Homo sapiens: one gene and its partners. The protein of the gene in region 2 purifies or fractionates together with the protein of the main gene of each other region. This does not show direct contact. Each region holds a gene or a part of one and is shown on either strand. Other genes may lie near its edges. The genes, in order: MZT2A, TUBGCP5 and ASPM.

Evidence for each region.
Region 1: the proteins of TUBGCP5 (region 2) and MZT2A purify together in Homo sapiens (affinity purification with mass spectrometry; 3 studies listed by BioGRID and IntAct, with this or other methods). This does not show direct contact.
Region 3: the proteins of TUBGCP5 (region 2) and ASPM purify together in Homo sapiens (affinity purification with mass spectrometry; 3 studies listed by BioGRID and IntAct, with this or other methods). This does not show direct contact.

The regions. Positions count from the first base shown.
Region 1 is NC_000002.12:131,490,236-131,493,984, forward strand, and holds the start of MZT2A (mitotic-spindle organizing protein 2A), read right to left. Parts: upstream 2,163-3,749; 5' UTR 2,142-2,162; coding exon 1,972-2,141; intron 1,790-1,971; coding exon 1,641-1,789; intron 1,002-1,640; exon of another isoform or gene 925-1,001; intron 658-924; coding exon of another isoform or gene 478-657; intron 1-477. UniProt on the Homo sapiens protein: Required for the recruitment and the assembly of the gamma-tubulin ring complex (gTuRC) at the centrosome.
Region 2 is NC_000015.10:23,019,019-23,022,667, forward strand, and holds part of TUBGCP5 (gamma-tubulin complex component 5), read right to left. Parts: intron 3,144-3,649; coding exon 2,941-3,143; intron 363-2,940; coding exon of another isoform or gene 317-362; coding exon 201-316; intron 1-200. UniProt on the Homo sapiens protein: Component of the gamma-tubulin ring complex (gTuRC) which mediates microtubule nucleation.
Region 3 is NC_000001.11:197,098,050-197,101,698, reverse strand, and holds part of ASPM (abnormal spindle-like microcephaly-associated protein), read left to right. Parts: coding exon 1-1,268; intron 1,269-3,649. UniProt on the Homo sapiens protein: Involved in mitotic spindle regulation and coordination of mitotic processes.

The DNA of each region.
Region 1 (3,749 bases), on a different chromosome or scaffold from region 2:
TGGAGTGTGGCCATGGGACCAGCACATGGCATCTGTGTGGCACTGCCTGGCAGACTCTGGGAAGGTGGGAGTCTCTGTTTCAGCCTCCAGACTTCCTGTCCAGGTAGGGGACAACTTCTAAGAGGCCGAGGCGTTTGTCACGCCTGGGGCTGTGCTCTCCAGCAGAGCACACTGCACCCGGCTGGCTGTCTTCCCCTGGAGAGGGGCTCTTTACACTCACCACTAGTTCGCCTCTGGGGTGTGGGGATGTTGGTCCTGTCCCCGGATGCCAGCCCGACTGTGGGGTCTAGAGACTGCCACACCATGTCTCTAATAAACCGAGTCAGAAATAGTGCCCTGTGGCTAAGCGGCAGGGCAGCGGTGGCCTGCATGATCCTGCCCTTGCAGCTCAAAGCTGCTTGGGCCTCTTGGGGCCATGCAGTTTCCATGAAAACAAGGAAGAGCACCAACCCCCAGAGATAAGCCAATAAACGCAACCTGCAAAAGGAGAGAACAGGCAGCAAGAGAGGCGGAGGGAACCCGGGGGGCCTGGAGAGAGAGGTGAGTGTGTGGCAGCTGGGCTGTGGAGCATAACCAGAGAGGCCGCAGGCTGCGGGCTGGAGGAAAACGAGGGCCTTGCAGGGGGGCTACTGTTCCTGGCAGAGAGAAAGGAGGCCTCTGGAGGTCAGAGAGAGACACAAAGAGAGCAGACAGAGCGAGGGTCAGTGAAGAGGCCAGCACGCAGGTGCCCGGGCCCTCTTGGGTCAGCGGGCGTGGGTGCCCAGGCCCTGGCACTTCCCCCATGAAGGCAGCCTGCTTTCCACGCCTTCTCATGATGCCTGTGAGGGTCTCCTCCTGCTTCCAGGCAGGGAGCCAGCTCTGGGCCTCCTTCCATTGGCCTGGGAGGTTGTGCTGCATTTCAGAGAGAGCCATCGGGAGCAGAAGCAACATGCGGAGAGGATGAGCAGGGACGGAGGCTCCACCATGACACTCTCAGTCCCAGCATCTCCTCAGCCCAGTCACCACACTGGAGAGGGAGGAGGCCCTTCAGACCCCGCAGGCCTCTGCACCCTGGGAGTTCCGCGTCTAACTCTCTTCCTGCAATCATCAGAGGCAGGAACTGGGCCCAGGTGGGGTAAAGGCAGGAAGACGTCTGCCTGCCCTGCTCCCTGGGCACTTCCCTGGATGCTGTATACCACAGGACAGAGATCGAGACTGTCTTTTGAAAAACATTTAGAGACAGGATCTCACCCTGTCACCCAGACTGGTCTCAAACTCATGGCCTCAAAGGATCCTCCCGCCGTGGGGTCCCAAAGATTATAGGCGTGAGCCACGGCGCCCAGCCCCAAACCGTCTTGATTCCCGACTTTGTAGGATGAAGGCCTGAGTGAAGAGGTGGGGAGGAGCTAAGCGGAGGAGCCCTACCCAGCCTGGACCACCCTGGGGCACGCACTCTGCGTCCACCTGACCTGGACGTGCCTCCTAAGGCTGGCAGCGAAGCCCAGGAGCAGAGCCCACGGATGGGCCCTGCAGGTGCTGGGCCTAGACCGACCGACAGACAGGCCTGGCCACTCAGGGCCACGCCGCCGCTGTGCCGCGCCTGCCCCCTCCCCGCCCGCCACCCCCGCCACTGGGGCAGGGACAGCGGGCCCAGCTCTGACCTCGGGTCTCGGGCACGCTCGACGTGGGCAGAGACACGGCCGCAGGGTCCTGGGGCTCGCTCGCTAGCCTCTGCCCGGCACACATGGACTTGAGCATCTGGAAGACGGCGAGGGGGGCCACGTTCAGCTTCAGCAGGTCCACCAGGATCCTGGCGGGGACAGACGCGGGGCCGGTGAGCCCTCTCCGCCCGGCGCGGCCACCTCCCTGAAGACCGGACAAGGACGGGGGCGGGGGCAGCGGGGGCTCCTCCCGACCAGCGGGCCGGGCGTACCCGGAGAGCAGAGGTCGGGGGTGTCTGGCGAGCATGCGGCCCCCACCCGCCCCGCTCACTTGAACACGTCGGGGTCGATACCGCCGCCCGCCGCCTGAGCCAGCTCGTACAGCTCCATCTCCTCGGTGCTCAGCACCTTCTTGCGCCGCAGCGCCAGCTTCTGCCGGGCCGCCTCCAGCCCCGGGGGCGCCGCCGACCCCGGCCCAGGCCCTACGCCCTGCGCCGCCATCCGCGAGGCCCGCCGAAAGGTGCGCCCCGCCCCGCCGCGCCCCCTAGCGGATGCGCCCACCGCCCTCTCCCTGCAGCGCCAGCGTCTGGCCTCCCGGGCTGCCCTGGCGGGAGCGGCGGGAGCGCGGGGACGGGGCCGCCTCCTCGGCGTCATTGGAGCCCAACAGTTAGTGGGCGCTCACGGTGTGCTGAGCGGCGCGCTAGGCGTCGGGAGTGGCATGGCGGACTGCAGGGGCCAGCTGCTTGGCGGTCAGGGCGTCCCTGATAGACTTGCATTGGTCGTGCTCGCTTAGGTGGCAGCACCCAGCCCAGTGCCAGGCATACATTGGGCGCTCAGTCAATACCTGTTTCAAGAAAGCGTGCAATTTTCTGGTCCGCACCGGTGCACCACTAGGGGTCGCTCTTCGGGGGGGGTGGGGGGCACTAATCAACAACCCTGCTTACGCGCACGCGCATTCCTTGCTAGGGAGAAAGTGCGTGAGCCCTACCTTGGGGCGCCAGAGGCCGCCACAACGCAGGCGCATTCAGCTAAGGACCACTCCCTCCCCCCGCACTCCTGCCTCGCCATTTCCCCTCCCTGGCCGGCCGGCCGGCCTTCTTCGCTTTGCGCACGTACCTTTTGAGGTAACGGCCCAAAGAGGTAGAAGCGCTTTTCCCGCCCGGCCGCGGGGCGTGGCTCTGCGCGCAGCTTGATGACGACGTTTTGGCGCGGTGGCGGAATGGCGGCTTCCACCTCTGAAGCGGGCGACGCTATGGGTCCCACAGGTGAGTGGCGCGGGACGCGCGCGTGAGACGGTCCGACGCCCTGGGGGCTTCCGCGAGCCCCTGCGGAGGCCATCTCCGTTCCTCCGCGAGCCCCAGGACTCGGGCGGCCCGGCGGCTCTGCCCAGGCCGGGCAGGCTGGGGAGTGGAGGGCCCCGGCTGAGTCTTCCTGCCACTCCTCTGGGCCATGCCTTTGTGCCACCTTCCCGCGCCGCTCGTACACTCTGTTCTGGTCCGGTAGGTGTTCGTTGAAGGTTACCCGTCGTTGAAGGAATTGAGGGAAGGAGAGCTTTGTGTTGAAATTGAGCCTTGGGCTCAACAGGCGGTGTGGGAGGAAGAGCCGGGTGTGGGTCCCAGCTCGACCCTTCCCCTGTGCGCTCCACATCTCCGAGCCTTGGTTTCGGAGGCTCCCGAAGCCCAATTCGCAGGAGAGTTGGAAACAAGTGGGCGCGTGCTGTTAAGGGAGGTCTTGGCATGACAGAATTTGCTTGGAATGATTAGCGTTGCCCAAGGGCTGTCGCTGTCAGAAAAACAAAACAAAACGAAACAAAAAAAACAAACGGGTCCGAAGCAGCTCCTGGAGAAAATAGGTGTTGGAGAGTCGCGACGAAGTGGACTCTAGGTGCATGGCACGCAGAGACCTGTGACGGGGGAGGGTGGCCATGGCAGGGTCAGAGAACAGGGGTGTGGGAGACACCTCTTGGGAGTTCTCGGGTTTGAATTTCCTCTCTTGGAAAGTTCCTAGAAATTCCTCTGGGCCTCATTCTTTCAGTCGCTGCCCATGAAAGCTTTTACTGAGCAGAGATGCTCTCCCCTTCATCATCTCTAGAGCTCCGCACTTATCCAG
Region 2 (3,649 bases):
GACAAAGATATTTCTAATCAGCTGGTATTACTGATGCCTTCCGTAAAAATGAGATAGAACTTGCCTATGATGACGACAAGTTCTGTGATGTGAACTGTGCTTTCTCAGTACTGTCTGAAACTAACGAAAGCATTTGATTTTCATGGGGAGGAAACTGGTGATGCCAGCCCCCAGTGACCTTGTGCTCTGCTGCAGCTCACCTCTGGATGATGAACTCCCTGGCGCCATCCCACAGGTGCCCGTGCACGATCCACTCGTCCACCGTCTGCAGGTAAGGCCGCACCGTTTCCACCCAGAGAGAGAAAAGGAGGGAGACCTGAGGCAGAGAGTGTGCACGGTCAGCTCTCAGGGTTCCCTGGTCACTAGGATAAAAGGAGGTTTAAACATTTCTGAAATGCCTTTAAAAAAGTGATCGGATTTCTATGTTTTTTGGGGCACAAAGAAATTAAAAATCCAAAAACATACACTATAAAATCCTTATGAAAAACTCACCTAAATGCCGGGCGTGGTGGCTCACGCCTGTGATCCCAGCACTTTGGGAGACCGAGGTGGGCGGATCACCTGAGGTAAGAAATCGAGACCATCCTGGCCAACATGGTGAAACCCCCTCTCTACTAAAAATACAAAAATTAGCTGGGCATGGTGACACGCGCCTGTAGTCCTGGCTACTTGGGAGGCTGAGGGAGGAGAATTGCTTGAATCTGGCAGGTGGAGGCTGCAATGAGCCAAGATCGTGCCACTACACTCCAGCCTGGCAACAGAGTGACACTGTCTCAAAACAAAAAGAAAAAAAAAAGAAAAAAGAAAAACTCACCTAAATATGGGATGATCATATTGTTTGTAGTCCAGACTGGGAAACTTGAGAGTGAAAGTGACACAGAGGCAGCAGGTGTATCCTGAGATAGCCCAGGCAAGCGAACAAGGTTTCCCTATCTAAATCCTATTACTAGCAAAGCATCCATTAAGGATGAGGAAATTGGCTGGGCATGGTGGCTCACGCCTGTAACCCCAGCACTTTGGGAGGCTGAGGTGGGCAGATCACAAGGGCAGGAGTTTGAGACCAGCCTGGCCAATATGGTGAAACCCCATCTCTATTAAAAAAAAATACAGCTGGGTGTGGTGGCTCATGCCTGTAATCCCAGCACTTTGGAAGGCCGAGGTAGGCGGATCAGGAGGTCAGGAGCTCGAGACCAGCCTGGCCAACATGGTGAAACCCCATCTCTATTAAAAATACAAAAATTAGATGGGCATGGTGGTGGGCGCCTGTAATCCCAGGTACTCAGGAGGCTAAGGCAGGAGAATAGTTTGAACCCAGGAGGCAGAGGTTGCAGTGAGCCAAGATCATGACACTGCACTCCAGCCTGGGCGACAGGGCGAGACTCCATCTCAAACAAAAAACAAAAAAAAACCCCAAAAAATTAGCCGGGCATGGTGATGTGCGCCTGTAGTCCCAGCTACTCAGGGGGCTGAGGCAGAAGAATCACTTGAACCTGGGAGGTGGAGGTTGCAGTGAGCCAAGATCGTGCGACTGCACTCCAGCCTGGCAACAGAGCAAGACTACGTCTCAAAAAAAAAAAAAAAAAAAAAAGAAAAAAAGAAATATGGTATTAAATTGGTGTGAAAAAAAGTTATACCAACAAACTAGAAAATACACCTAATGTACATACCCAACTAAGACTGTAGCATTCTAAATTACAGCCTCTAGTTAGATTTTTATTTTTAAATCTATATATTGTTTGAGACAGGGTCTTGCTCTGTTACCCAAGCTGGAGTGCAGTGGCACAAACATGGCTCACTGCAGCCTTGACCTTCCACACTCAAGCCATCTTCCTGCCTTAGCCTCTCGAGTACCTGGGACCATAGGCATGTGCCTCCAGAGCTGGCTACCTTTTTTGAGACAGAGTCTTGCTCTGTTGCCCAGGCTGGAGTGTAGTGGTGCGATCTCGGCTCACTGCATCCTCCCGGGTTCAAGCAATTCTCCTGCCTCAGCCTCCTGAGTAGCTGGGATGACAGGTGTTCGCCACCACACTAGGCTAATGTTTGTATTTTTAGTAGAGACGGGGTTTCACCATGTTGGCCAGGCTGGTCTCGAATTCCTGGTGTCAGCACACCTGGCTACTTTAAAAATTTTTTGTAGAGACAGGGTCTCAGTATGTTGCCCGGGCTGGTCTCAAATTCCTGGGCTCAAGTGATCCTCTCACCTCAGACTCATATGTAGCTGGGACTACAGGCGTGAGCCACTATGCATGGCCTAGATTTGTATTTTTTAAAATACAATATAAAATATATAACATAAAATTTATCTTAACTGTATATTTTAAAAAATTTTAATTTAACTAATTTTTTAAAGACAGAGTCTTACTATGTTGCCCAGGCAAGTCTCAAACTCCTGGGCTCAATCAATCCTCCTGCCTCGGCCTCCCAAAGTGTTGGGATTACAGGCACGAGCCACTGTGCCTGACCCTCAGCATTTTTAAGTTCAGAGGTTTTAAGTACATTCATATCGTTGTGACAAATCTCCAGAACTTTTTCATGTTATAAAACTGAAACTCTGTACCCATTAAACAACAGCTCCCCATTCCCCAGCCCTTGGTAACCAGCATTCCACTTTGTTTCTGTGGATGTGTCTACTTCAGCTATCTCATGTCATGTTAGTTACATGTTAGTGTTTATGTAAGAAAGCGTTATTGTAAATATCTATACACATCAGGTAGGTACTTCTCACAGCTTGCCTTGTCCTTGCCTCATCCTTCTGAGGATCTTGGCAATTAGAGCTGAAAAGCCAGTTTCCTACAGCCTTAAATTTGGAAGTTAATTTAAAAACTCTGAACTGTCTGACGAGTCATCATTCAAGTATCAACAAAGAACTACCATCAGCTGTCTATCACTCCTCTGCTGTGCAGCATGGAGTCACACACTTTAGGCAGAAGTCTCACTTACGGTTTGCTCAGAGGCTTCTCCAACATTGTCATATTCAAGAATGGCCTTGTACAGGGTGTTAAGCAGGTGAGAGGCCCGGACGACATTTCGAGTATCAGGTGGAACTTCTGCTACTCCAGTACTAAACACTTTGTGCAGAACCTTGAGCTGAGACAATCGAGGTGCCAACTTGTCCACCACTATTGCAAGAGTTATTGTAGTATCTGCAAATATCAATAAATCAAACTCAACAGCAAGGAAAAATACATGCATCTAAAATGTGACATAAATGCTGGCAAATCATCAGGCTTATGGACAGGCAGGGCAAAATGGAGGACGGTGGATTTTAATCTCATACCACAAGGACCTAATTTCCCTAAGGAAGAACTCCTGCAAGTCACAGAGAAAAAGACAACTCAGCAGAAAAATAATGTATAAAGGAACTGACAGTTCATAAAAAAGGAATGATGAGTGATTCTAAAACATACAGAAAGTCACTTGACCTTACTTATAATAAAAGAACGCAAATTAAAATTACACTAGGTAAAACAAAACACCTCCCAATGGGCTAATGTTACAGAGAGGGGTGAGGGAGGCTGTGCCTACAAAGGGCTGCACAAGCAAGCTCCTGGGAGGCGATGGCACAGCTGTGATCTGAACATGGAAGTGGCTATGTGGAGCTAGACATGTGATAAACTATACATGAATATACCACACCCACCCCTGTTCA
Region 3 (3,649 bases), on a different chromosome or scaffold from region 2:
GAGCTGCAAAATTACAAAGAGAAAATTATATCAGACAATGGCATTCTGCTGTGGTTATTCAGGCTGCATATAAAGGAATGAAAGCAAGACAACTTTTAAGGGAAAAACACAAAGCTTCTATCGTAATACAAAGCACCTACAGAATGTATAGGCAGTATTGTTTCTACCAAAAGCTTCAGTGGGCTACAAAAATCATACAAGAAAAATATAGAGCAAATAAAAAGAAACAGAAAGTATTTCAACACAATGAACTTAAGAAAGAGACTTGTGTTCAGGCAGGTTTTCAGGACATGAACATAAAAAAACAGATTCAGGAACAGCACCAGGCTGCCATTATTATTCAGAAGCATTGTAAAGCCTTTAAAATAAGGAAGCATTATCTCCACCTTAGAGCAACAGTAGTTTCTATTCAAAGAAGATACAGAAAACTAACTGCAGTGCGTACCCAAGCAGTTATTTGTATACAGTCTTATTACAGAGGCTTTAAAGTACGAAAGGATATTCAAAATATGCACCGGGCTGCCACACTAATTCAGTCATTCTATCGAATGCACAGGGCCAAAGTTGATTATGAAACAAAGAAAACTGCAATTGTGGTTATACAGAATTATTATAGGTTGTATGTTAGAGTAAAAACAGAAAGAAAAAACTTTTTAGCAGTTCAGAAATCTGTACGAACTATTCAGGCTGCTTTTAGAGGCATGAAAGTTAGACAAAAATTGAAAAATGTATCAGAGGAAAAGATGGCAGCCATTGTTAACCAATCTGCACTCTGCTGTTACAGAAGTAAAACTCAGTATGAAGCTGTTCAAAGTGAAGGTGTTATGATTCAAGAGTGGTATAAAGCTTCTGGCCTTGCTTGTTCACAGGAAGCAGAGTATCATTCTCAAAGTAGGGCTGCAGTAACAATTCAAAAAGCTTTTTGTAGAATGGTCACAAGAAAACTGGAAACACAGAAATGTGCTGCCCTACGGATTCAGTTCTTCCTTCAGATGGCTGTGTATCGGAGAAGATTTGTTCAGCAGAAAAGAGCTGCTATCACTTTACAGCATTATTTTAGGACGTGGCAAACCAGAAAACAGTTTTTACTATATAGAAAAGCAGCAGTGGTTTTACAAAATCACTACAGAGCATTTCTGTCTGCAAAACATCAAAGACAAGTCTATTTACAGATCAGAAGCAGTGTTATCATTATTCAAGCTAGAAGTAAAGGATTTATACAGAAACGGAAGTTTCAGGAAATTAAAAATAGCACCATAAAAATTCAGGTATTTCTATATTTAATTTAAATATAAAACTGTGAGTCTTTCTTTTGACCAATATTTGTTAGAATGTATAAAATGAGCTTAAGCAGGTCATAAAGAATAGTACTTAGTTGAGGTGACCATTTATCTTCCAAAGTGGAACATTTTTGAAAGAGGGAAAGGGCACTAGTAAGTCAGCCAAGACAGCACAGAACGGGGATTGTTCTGGCCATGGTCACCCTATGTGTGGTGCATTTCAGTATGGGTTAATTGTAGCACTCTTAGAAGAATTTTGAGAAAATAGGAGTCCTGTATTTGGCAAAGTTATTTCTTTAAGTGGAAAATATAAGCTAAGATAAAGTATTATTTGGCATAATATAGGCAAAATAGAGTAACTTTGTTCCTCTAATAATCTATTAACCAGAGCTGTTTGCTGCTTAGGCTAGTAGACATACTTTATTCTGAGTGTTTAGTACTTTGGCTTCCAAATCAATTTTGTATTATTTTGTTTTGTCTATTTGCCAAATGTGTGAGGAATGTACAGTATTATCTCTTTTAAAATATGAAGGAAGTGATAAAGTTTAAGTAATTTGGCCAATGTTGCATAGAGAGAGGCAGATCCAGGAACTGAATCTAAGTACTTCAGCTATTTCTTTTTACCTGCAATAACCCAGGCTTTAACCCAGATGTGATATGTTCATATCTTACTGGATTACTGTTAAATTTAGAAATAATGTTTTAATTCAAGAAATGTCAAGTGCTAGAAATGTGCCAAATGCTGTAGTGGGTGTTATAAATAGACAATGAGTAAGATATACTTAGTTGCTGTCCTCAAGGAACTTAATTGAACAAGGAAGTATAATTATAATACAACATGAGAAGTGTATGTTTCAGGAAACACAGAATGGGAAATCAAGCTAGTCTCCATGGTCAGAGACTTCCCAGAGTGAGTAACATTTAAGTTGAAATGTTACACTGAAGTATGAATTAGAAATAGCCCAGTAAAAGGTATAGAAGAATATTCCAATTGCAAGAGATAACGTGGAAAAATCAAAAAACTAGAAACAATAAAAAGTGATATGGGACCAGGTTGGCAATAGAGGGAGTAAGATTGTGGATAGATTTTTAAGACAGAAAAAATTTAGTCTTTATGCTCCAGACAAAACAAATTCTAGAGGAGTTTAAGCAGGAGAAGACCACAGTCATTTTTATTAAAAAAAAAAAAAAAATTACTCTGGCAGGAATGTGGAAGATGGACTGGAAAAGGAGCAAGACTAGAATCAGGTAGACCAAATGAAAATAGGCAGTAAGCCAGGTGAGAAAGAGTTATAGTTCAGTGTAGGTTTGTGACAATGGGATTGTAAGTTGGCATTATATAGAGCATGAACAAGGAGGCAAGCCATGTTGATGGCTTAAGTAACTCAGCAGAGTTACTCCCTCACACCCTGACATAGGGAATAAAGAGGGAAGAGCAGGTTTTGAGATTGATGATGAATTCAGTTTGGAGTATATAAGATCTGAAGTACCTAGCAGGTAACCCCCTTGAAATATCTAGTAAGGCAGTTGACTATGTTTGTCTGGAGTTCAGGAGAGTAGTGTGAGTATTAGAATTTGATTTGTACATTATGGGCATATGCTAATAATTAAAGTTCTGGGAATAATGAGATCACCAAGGAACAATACATAAAATGAGTGAACAAAGAGGGCCTGGGACTTGAGCCCTGAAGAACATCAAAATTCACAGACATTGACAAGAGAAGCCAACAAGGTGTTAAGAGGGAAAGAAGAAAGGTAAGAGATTAATGGTATCAAGAAACCAAGGTGTTAAGAGGGAAAGAAGAAAGGTAAGAGATTATGGTATCAAATTCCTAACACTACTGAGAAGTTCACAATTGAAAGGTGTTCATTGGATGTATTAGTTATGGTTTTATTCACTTAAAATGATTAAATAGCCAAAATAACAATCTTATAAAAATTTTTTTCTCTTACATAATTACATAATAAAATTGTATTTTACACATATAATTTTTAGCCTATGCCAGTGGTCTAAAACTTTACTGCATATTGGAGTCACCTGGAATTTTAAAACATACTCCTACCTTTAGATATTCTAATTGGTATGGGAAGCAACACAAGCGTGGGATTTGTTTCAAAGCTCCCAGGTGACTCTAATGAGCAGCGAAGTTTGGGAGCCACTGGGATATAGTATACATTACTAAATACTTACATATATATGTAAATATGTATGTTTTATATATATATATATATCAACTTCTCTGTAGCATTTGGGATTTAAGCACACTTTGTTTCTTCTCTCAACCCTTGGTTTCTTGATACCATAATCTCTTAGCTGTCTTCTTTCCCTCTTAACGCTATGTTGGCTTCTCTTGTCAATGTCTGTAAAT